Linked DNA regions of Homo sapiens: region 2 is linked to region 1. Evidence: fine-mapped expression QTL. A gene starts in region 1. The other region holds a variant in brackets. All regions are shown on one strand. Distances are between the middles of the regions.

Region 1 (4,391 bases):
CTTTGCCTTAGTGAATTGAGGCACTCCTGAGGTGAATCCTCATTCCTCTACAAAACAATCTACAAAAAATTAATTTCTGGAAATTGAGCCACGTGGAAAAATGAAATGGTGCTGGGGCCACAAGTACTAGGAACCTAGGAATGGGGACCCCAGGAAGAGGCGCAGCCTGGAGATAGATTCCCGAGGAACCTGAATTCAGACCTAAAGGAGTCAGAAAGATCTGTAGACCTGCAGCTGTTCCTGTCCCCAAAGAGGGCACCGCGCCCTGCACAGCTTGTTTGCTTCCGTTACTGGGCAAAAAACCAGGGAGCACATACTTCAAGACATTGGAAAATATCTGATTTGCGGGGAGATCCCCATCTGGGTAACACTAGGATTTGGAATGCCAGAGAAGGAATCCTGAAGGGAGGAGAAAAGAGTGGCCAAATCAAAGGCCTGGAGGTGGGACTGAAGCTGGCTGGGTTGGAGGAGGGAGTAGAGGATGGTTTGGGAAGTGTTTGACTTGGGTACTGTGGAAGCCTAGGGGAGGAGGGGATAGAATCTGAGACCTGGGGGTGAGGGGTTCCTGCAGACAGTGGCCAAAGGCAGCCCTCGAGAGAGAAGGAGAGGACATTCCTGGCAGAAGTTACAACACATGCAAAGGTACAGAGGTTGCCCCCTTCCTACCCCTCTCCTTAGAGGTGGGTTAGAGATGTATCCTTTTTACAGATGAGGAAACCAAATCTCAGAAAGATTAAGTCACTTTCCCAAGTGTATGGTGGAGGCCCCACTTGAACCCAGGCACTGTGTCTCCAGACCCCACACTATTACTGCCTTGTTTAAACCAGCCAATGATTTAATGAATAAAGGATGAACAAATGAATAAGTGGATGAGTCACCTGAAAATTCTGCAGGCAAAAGAGACTCCATATCTACTTACTTCTTGCCTATCTTCTGCCACCTCTCCTAGTCCACCATCACTGCTCACTATGGTCAAGGTCCTACCCAATCTGGCCCCTGCTACCACAACCCCCTTCAGCTTGTTCCAGCCACATTGGCACTGGATGTTTCCTCTTCCTGGCACATTCTTAAAAAAATGTGTTGATCATAAAGTGAACATGACCCTTTGGGAATTAACTGGAGTTCTTGTATTCCCTCATCTGTAAAATAGACATTATATTATCCACCCCACTGGATTGTTGTGAGGGTTGGATGAAATGATGCATGTAAACAGCTTAGTTAAGAGTTGGGTACAATCAGTGAACAAATGATTATGAATTAGTGCTTTTATTGTAGTCAGAATCATAAAGATTTGACAGGTTCCCATATCCCACCTCTGCTTGGACTACCTCATTTGCTCATATGCAAACATTATTTGGTACCTACTGTGTGTGCACCATGGGATGGGCCTGCCTCTGTGGAAAGTTCTTGGGTGCAGGGGGAGACAGCCATGGGCACTGATGACATCAGGTAGTTATCGTGAGTTTTGGCGGTGTCCAGAGCAAAGGGATGGTGGCGTATATACCAAGTGTGTTCTGGTGTGGGGGTGGACACGCACCAGGGCTAGGGCTGCAGAGAATGTCTGTGTTGCAGATCTAGGTTTCTCCATGATCATCGGTGGGAATGTGTTTTGTCTGCAAGTGTATGCTCATATGAGTTTCCCTGGGTCTCTGTGTGTCAGTGTGTTACCTGTGTGTGTGGGGGTATGGGTGTATGCATGCATGTATGTAACATGCCCATGTGTGTTACTCTGGACTTGTATGTCTGTATGTATACCTAGATTGGCGTGTGTTCTGTCTGTACATGCCCTCGTATGTTTCCTCACTTTTGTGTGTGTTTATATGTGTGTCATTTCTTGTGTGCCTCCAGGCCCCCCTTGCCACCTTGGGCAAGGGTGTGTACACCACCCAAGTGTCCACCTCCGCTTGTCTGATGCTGTCTGTGACGCCCCCGCTCTCTGCCTAGCTGAGCCTGTGTGGATGTGGGAGACTAATCTCCCCGCGGGCACTGCGTGTGACCTCACCCCCCTCTGTGAGGGGGTTATTTCTCTACTTTCGTGTCTCTGAGTGTGCTTCCAGTGCCCCCCTCCCCCCAAAAAATGCCTTCTGAGTTGAATATCAACACTACAAACCGAGTATCTGCAGAGGGCCCTGCGTATGAGTGCAAGTGGGTTTTAGGACCAGGATGAGGCGGGGTGGGGGTGCCTACCTGACGACCGACCCCGACCCACTGGACAAGCACCCAACCCCCATTCCCCAAATTGCGCATCCCCTATCAGAGAGGGGGAGGGGAAACAGGATGCGGCGAGGCGCGTGCGCACTGCCAGCTTCAGCACCGCGGACAGTGCCTTCGCCCCCGCCTGGCGGCGCGCGCCACCGCCGCCTCAGCACTGAAGGCGCGCTGACGTCACTCGCCGGTCCCCCGCAAACTCCCCTTCCCGGCCACCTTGGTCGCGTCCGCGCCGCCGCCGGCCCAGCCGGACCGCACCACGCGAGGCGCGAGATAGGGGGGCACGGGCGCGACCATCTGCGCTGCGGCGCCGGCGACTCAGCGCTGCCTCAGTCTGCGGTGGGCAGCGGAGGAGTCGTGTCGTGCCTGAGAGCGCAGCTGTGCTCCTGGGCACCGCGCAGTCCGCCCCCGCGGCTCCTGGCCAGACCACCCCTAGGACCCCCTGCCCCAAGTCGCAGCCATGAACTACCTGCGGCGCCGCCTGTCGGACAGCAACTTTATGGCCAATCTGCCAAATGGGTACATGACAGACCTGCAGCGTCCGCAGCCGCCCCCACCGCCGCCCGGTGCCCACAGCCCCGGAGCCACGCCCGGTCCCGGGACCGCCACTGCCGAGAGGTCCTCCGGGGTCGCCCCAGCGGCCTCTCCGGCCGCCCCTAGCCCCGGGTCCTCGGGGGGCGGTGGCTTCTTCTCGTCGCTGTCCAACGCGGTCAAGCAGACCACGGCGGCGGCAGCTGCCACCTTCAGCGAGCAGGTGGGCGGCGGCTCTGGGGGCGCAGGCCGCGGGGGAGCCGCCTCCAGGGTGCTGCTGGTCATCGACGAGCCGCACACCGACTGGTAAGCCACTGCCGCGGACGTCTCCCGTGGGCCTGGGTCCCCAGATCGTTCTTCTGCGAATGAGCAATTATCGAGCGCCGCTTGTGTGCCTGACACCTGGCCCTCTCACCTAAATCTTTTTCCTTTAAATTATTAAGCTGGATGCTTCCTCTGTGCCCCGCCCTTGTCGCCCCCCTCCGCCCCTTAAACCTTGATGGATCCAGGGAGCAATTATCAGGCACCTGCTGCGTACCTGTTCCCTACTACCCCTCCCCCAAAAGTCTTTGGCTTCAATATATCCTATGAGCCTTCGAAAACCGAACGTGTCCTTCCTACCCTCCCCAACCCTTGCCCCATAGGCCTTGTCCTCTAATGGATCTTGTGAGCACTTATCTAGTACCTGCAGTATGCCTCATCCAAGAGCCCTTCCCCAAGGCCTTTGATTTCAATGAGGTTTGTGAGCATTCTTTGAGAGCCTGATACTGTCCTGTTCTCCTCAACCCTTGCCCTGAGGCCTTCTCTAATGGGTCTTGTGAGCATGTGTCCAGTCTATGCTATGTGTCCCACCCCAGCTCCGTCCTTAAAGCCCTTTTAAACTATTTAGTAAACATTGAGTACCTGCTGTGTATCCCACCCCAGCTTCTCTCCAAAAGCTTTGCCTTTCATGGATCCTGTGAGTTTTGATTGGATGCCTTCTCTGTGCCCCAACTCCAAGCCCTCTCTCTGAGGGCCTTTTCTCCAAAGGATCTAGGAAGCATTTGTTAAGTGCCTGATACGTGCCGCACCCCCAAACCCCTTCTCAAACAAATCATTTTCCTCCAGTGAGTTCCATGAGCAGTTTTGAACCTTCTTTGTGTGACTCATCTTCAGACCGTCTCCTCAAAGACCTTTCCCTACAGTGGATCTAGAAAACATTTATTGAGTGCCTCTTGTATCCCCCGTTCTCCAGCTACTTCTTCAAAGACCTTTCCTTTGGTGGATCCATCTAGCATTTATCAACTGCCTGCAGTGTGAGCCTTCTCTAAAAGTTCTTTCCTCCAGTGTATTCAGCAAGCATGCATTGACTGGTGCCTGCTGTATACCCCACCCTCAAACCCTTTCTGCAATACCCTTTCCTCCAGTGGCTTCAGTCTGCATGTATTGAGCACTTTCTGCATGACCCAACCTTAGACCTCTCCATAAAGGCCTGTGCCTCCAGTTAATACAGTGCTCAGATATCTGGCACTTGCTGTGTGTACCATTCCAGTCACTCTTTCCAAAGACCTTTTCTTTTAATCACTCCTTGGAGTATTTATGGAGCACCTGCTGTGTACCTGATTGTGTGCCTTCTTCACAAAAGCCTTTTCTCCTATGGATGAAGAATCGAG
Region 2 (4,391 bases), 24 kb after region 1:
CCATGCTGGTCTCAAACTCCTGAGCTCAAGTTACCCACCTTGGCCTCCCAAAGTGTTGTGATTACAGGCATGAGCCACTGCACTTAGCCTGTTTTTTTTTTTTCTTAGTTGTTTCCTTGGGTATTACAATTAACATCATTATTTATATTACTCCAATTAGAATTAATACCAAATTAAGCTCAGTAATACAAAGAAATTGCCTCTATATAACTTTATTCCTTCATCCCTCCTTTGTGCTATTATTGTCAAACAAATTACATCTTTACACATTGTGTGCCCATGAACATAGTTATAGTTATTGCTTTATGCAGTTGTCTTTTAAATCAGGAGTAAAAAAGTGTTACACGCAAAAAAATGCATTTATACTGTCTTTTATATTTACCTATGTAGTTAACTTTACAGGTGCTATTTATTTCTTTATGTAGATTTACATTACTAGCTAGTATCATTTTATTTCACCCTGAAGGACTCCGTTTAGCATTTTTTGTAGAAGTTTGTTAGTGATGAACTATCTCAGTTTTTGTTTATCTGTGAATGTCTTAATTTCTCCTTCATTTTTGAAAGATAATTTTGCTGGATGTAGAATTCTTGTTTGGCAGTCTTTTTCTTTCAGTACTTTGAATATGTTGTCCTACTGCCCTCTGACTTCAAGATTTCTAATGAGAAATTAGCTGCTAATCCTATTGAGGATTCCTTGTATATGATGAGTTACTTCTCTCTTACTTTCAAGATTCTCTCTGTCTTTAGCTTTTATAAGTTTATGATGTGTCTGGGTGCCTATCTCTTTGAATTTATCTTAGTTGGAGTTCAGTGCACTTCTTGAATGCATAGATTAATGCTTTAAATCAAATTGGGGGGATTTTTAGCCATTATTCCTTCAAATAGTCTTTCTTGCACCTTTTTTTCTCTCTTTTCTCTCTCCTTTTGGGACTTCCATTATGTGGGTGTTCATATGCTTCATGGTGTTCCACAGACCTCTAGGACTGTGTTCATTTTGTTTACTTTTCTTCTTCCTGTTCCTCAGATTGGATCATCTCACCTGACCTGTCTTCAAATTCACTGATTCTTTACCCTGCCAGCTCAAAGCTACTGTTGATCCCCTCTAGTGAATTTTTCATTTCAGTTATTATGCTTTTTATCTCCAGAATTTCTTTTTTTTTTTTTTTTTGAGATGGAGTTTCACTCCTGTCACCCAGGCTAGAGTGCAATGGCACAATCTCGGCTCACTGCAACCTCCACCTCCCAGGTTCAAGCAATTCTCGTGCCTCAGCCTCCCGAGTAGCTGGGATTACAGGCACACGCCACCATGCCTGGATAATTTTTGTATTTTTAGTTGAGAGGGGGGTTTCACCGTATTGGCCAGGCTGGTCTCAAACTCCTGACCTCAGGTGATCCACCCGCCTCAGTCTCCCAAAGTGCTGGGATTACAGGCATGAGCCACCATGCCCGGCCCAGAATTTCTTTTTCATGTAATTTCTCTTTATTGATACTCTCTACTTATTAGGATATCATTTTATCCTTTCCTTTAAGTTCTTTAAACATAGTTTCCTTTAGTTCTTTGAAAATATTAAAAATCACTGATTTACAGTTTTTGCCTATTAAGTCTAACATCTGGGTTTCCTCAGGGATAGTGTTTGACTGCTTTTTTCCCTGTGTTTGGGCCACACTTAATTTTGTTTCTTTGCATCTCTCATACATTTTTGTTGAAAACTGGACATTTAAATAATATAATGTGGCAACTCTGGGAATCAGGTTCTCTCCCCTCCTCAGGATTTGTTTTTATTGCTTTGTTTTGTTTTTAGTGACCTTCCTGAACTAATTCTGTAAAGCCTGTGTTCTTTGTCATATGTGGCTACCCAAGTCTCTGCTCCGTTAGCTTAGTGGTCAGCTAATGATTGGACAGATATTTCTTTAAATCACCTGAAACCAGTAAGTCTCCCAGACTTTGCTGATGGGCTCTATGTGCATGTCAGGGTGTGCCTTTAATGCAAAGGCAGGCTGTTTACAACTTTGCCTTATCCTTCATTTCCTGCTTGTGCAGAGTTTTGAGGTCAGCCAGAGATCCTAGGCATACATACAGCCTTATGCGTATTTGTGGTTTTCTAGATTCCCAGGCATATGTCAGAGCTTTTTAAAGCCTAATAATGGACTGATAATGGATATATAATTACCTAGATTTTCCTTTTAAGTTTTCTTGAAAAGCTTGTTGTTTTTTCCTAAATGTTATCACTGCTGTGTTAAACAGTTGCTGCTAATT[G/T]TTTCTGAAAAGCACCCCCAGAGAAAGCTGTTTATACCAGATGAGCCCCATGAGTGGAGTATTCAGGATAGTGCCAGACAGATCAAATAAAGACAGTTCTCTGGAAATGAGATTTTGGAGGAACTCCAACCCTGTTCTGCCTCCTCCAATGGTTGCTAGTCTGCTGGTTTTCACTGGAATTGCAGGGCTGTTGATTTTCAAGGCTCTTGTGGAGGTGAGGAGAAGGGGATGTGTACAAGAGAAGTTCAAATGCCACAGCTTCCTGTTGTTACCAAGATTCAGCCATTTTCTTGAAAAAATGCTTTCTGAATTGTAAACCTTGGTCAATTTCCAGAGTTCTGATAAGTTTGTTTTGACAATTTTTGCCAGTGTTCTCATTGCTTTTAAGCAATTTTAAGGAGGAGAAGACAGGCTCTTACATTTCTGCTGACATCACCTCCAGGCATATCTTGTTCTTTCCCGGCCCCAGCCCAAAGATAATAGTATTTCAAAGCCAAGATCTGGGAACTAGATTTACTCATTGCTACTGGAATGTTCTTGCTTCAAGGCCCTCTCATTGTACACAGCTAGGACATTTCATTTCTTTATGTATATATATATAATTTCATATATGTGTATATATAAAATTGTTATATGTGTGTGAGTAGAAGAATCAAACTGTTTTTTCTTCTGCTCTCACAATACCATGTGTGGAGGCTTTTACACACACACCAAGAAGCAATTAATTCTGCAGCAAATTAATATACCAGCTGGATGTCCTGCAATTCAATTCTGACACTATCTACCTGGAGGATAGCATCAGATCACACAGGTTAAGGGTGTAGTCCCACAGGACTAAGCCCTACTTCTAATGCTGATGGCAAGCCCCAGGTTATTTTACCTGTGCTTCTGACCAACTAGCTATAAATCGGGGTCCACAACCCCTTCCTCAGGTTCAATTAGTTTGCTAGTGTGGCTCATGGAACTCAGGGAAACACTTATTTACATGATCGGTTTATTGTAAAGAGTATTACATTACAAAGGATACAGATGAAGAGATGCAGAGGACGAAGCATGTGGGAAAGAGCACAGAGCTTCCATGCCCCACCCCCAGGTAGCCACCCTCCAGGAACCCCACATGTTCGGCTATCCAGAAGCTCTCCAACTCCATCCTCTTCAGCCCTTCATGGAGACTTCATTGCATAGGCAGGATTTATAACTGTATAGAAATGTGATGGGACAGCCAGGCGCAGTGGCTCACACCTGTAATCCCAGCACTTTGGGAGGCTGAGGCAGGCGGATCACCTGAGGTCGGGAGTTCTAGACCAGCCTGACCAACATGGAGAAACCCCGTACCTACTAAAAATACAAAATTAGCCAGGGGCAGTGGCGCATGCCTGTAATCCCAGCTACTCGAGCGGCTGAGGCAGGAGAATTGCTTGAACCAAGGAGACGGAGGTTGCGGTGAGCTGAGATCACACCATTGCACTCCAGCCTGGGCAACAAGAGCGAAACTCTGTCTCAAAAAAAAAAAAAAAGAAAAGAAAAGAAAGAAAGAAATGTGATGGGACAAAAAGGGTGTGATCTTGTACTAACAGACTGAGTGGGGAAACCCAGCAAGGCCTGTCTGTTCAGAGCCTTAGACTCTCTCTGCAACATCCCTTCCTTCTGGGTATTGGGCAGGACCCCTTCTAAAAGGGAGGTCTTTTTTTTTCTTTTTCTTTTTTTTTTTTTTGAGACAGAGTCTCACTTTGTCACCCAACTGGAGTGTGGTGGTGTGGTCTTGGCTCACTGCAGCCTCTGCCTCCCGGGTTCAAGCAATTCTCTTGCATCAGCCTCCCAAGTAGCTGGGACTACAGGTGTGTGCCACCACACCCAGCTAATTATTTTTGTATTTTTAGTAGAGATGGGGTTCACCATGTTAGCCAGGCTGGTCTTGAACTCCTGGCCTCAGGTGATCCACTTGCCTCTGCCTCCCAAAGTTCTGGGATTACAGACGTGAGCCACTGCACCCAGCCTTTTTTTTTTTTTTGAGATAGAGTCCGTGACTCTGTCGCCCAGGCTGGAGTGCAGTGGCGCAATCTTGGCTCACTGCAACCTCCGCCTCCTGGACTCAAGCAACCTTCCCACCTCAGCCTCCTGAGTAGCTGGGGCC

Evidence for each region. PIP is the estimated chance that this variant, and not a neighbour inherited with it, causes the effect.
Region 2: its variant is fine-mapped to the expression of SYN1 in whole blood (TOPMed, PIP 0.98).

The regions. Positions count from the first base shown.
Region 1 is chrX:47,618,006-47,622,396 of GRCh38, reverse strand. It overlaps SYN1 (synapsin I), which reads left to right and starts at 2,540. Exons shown (of 13, transcript NM_006950.3): 1 at 2,540-3,045. The coding sequence starts at 2,669. RefSeq lists silencers at 2,317-2,526, 2,233-2,527.
Region 2 is chrX:47,594,113-47,598,503 of GRCh38, reverse strand. The region is part of intron 5 of SYN1 (synapsin I); the gene reads left to right. Among named protein-coding and RNA genes, the nearest start is that of MIR4769, 8.9 kb to the right of the region's middle. The variant G/T (reference allele first, on the strand shown) is at 2,258.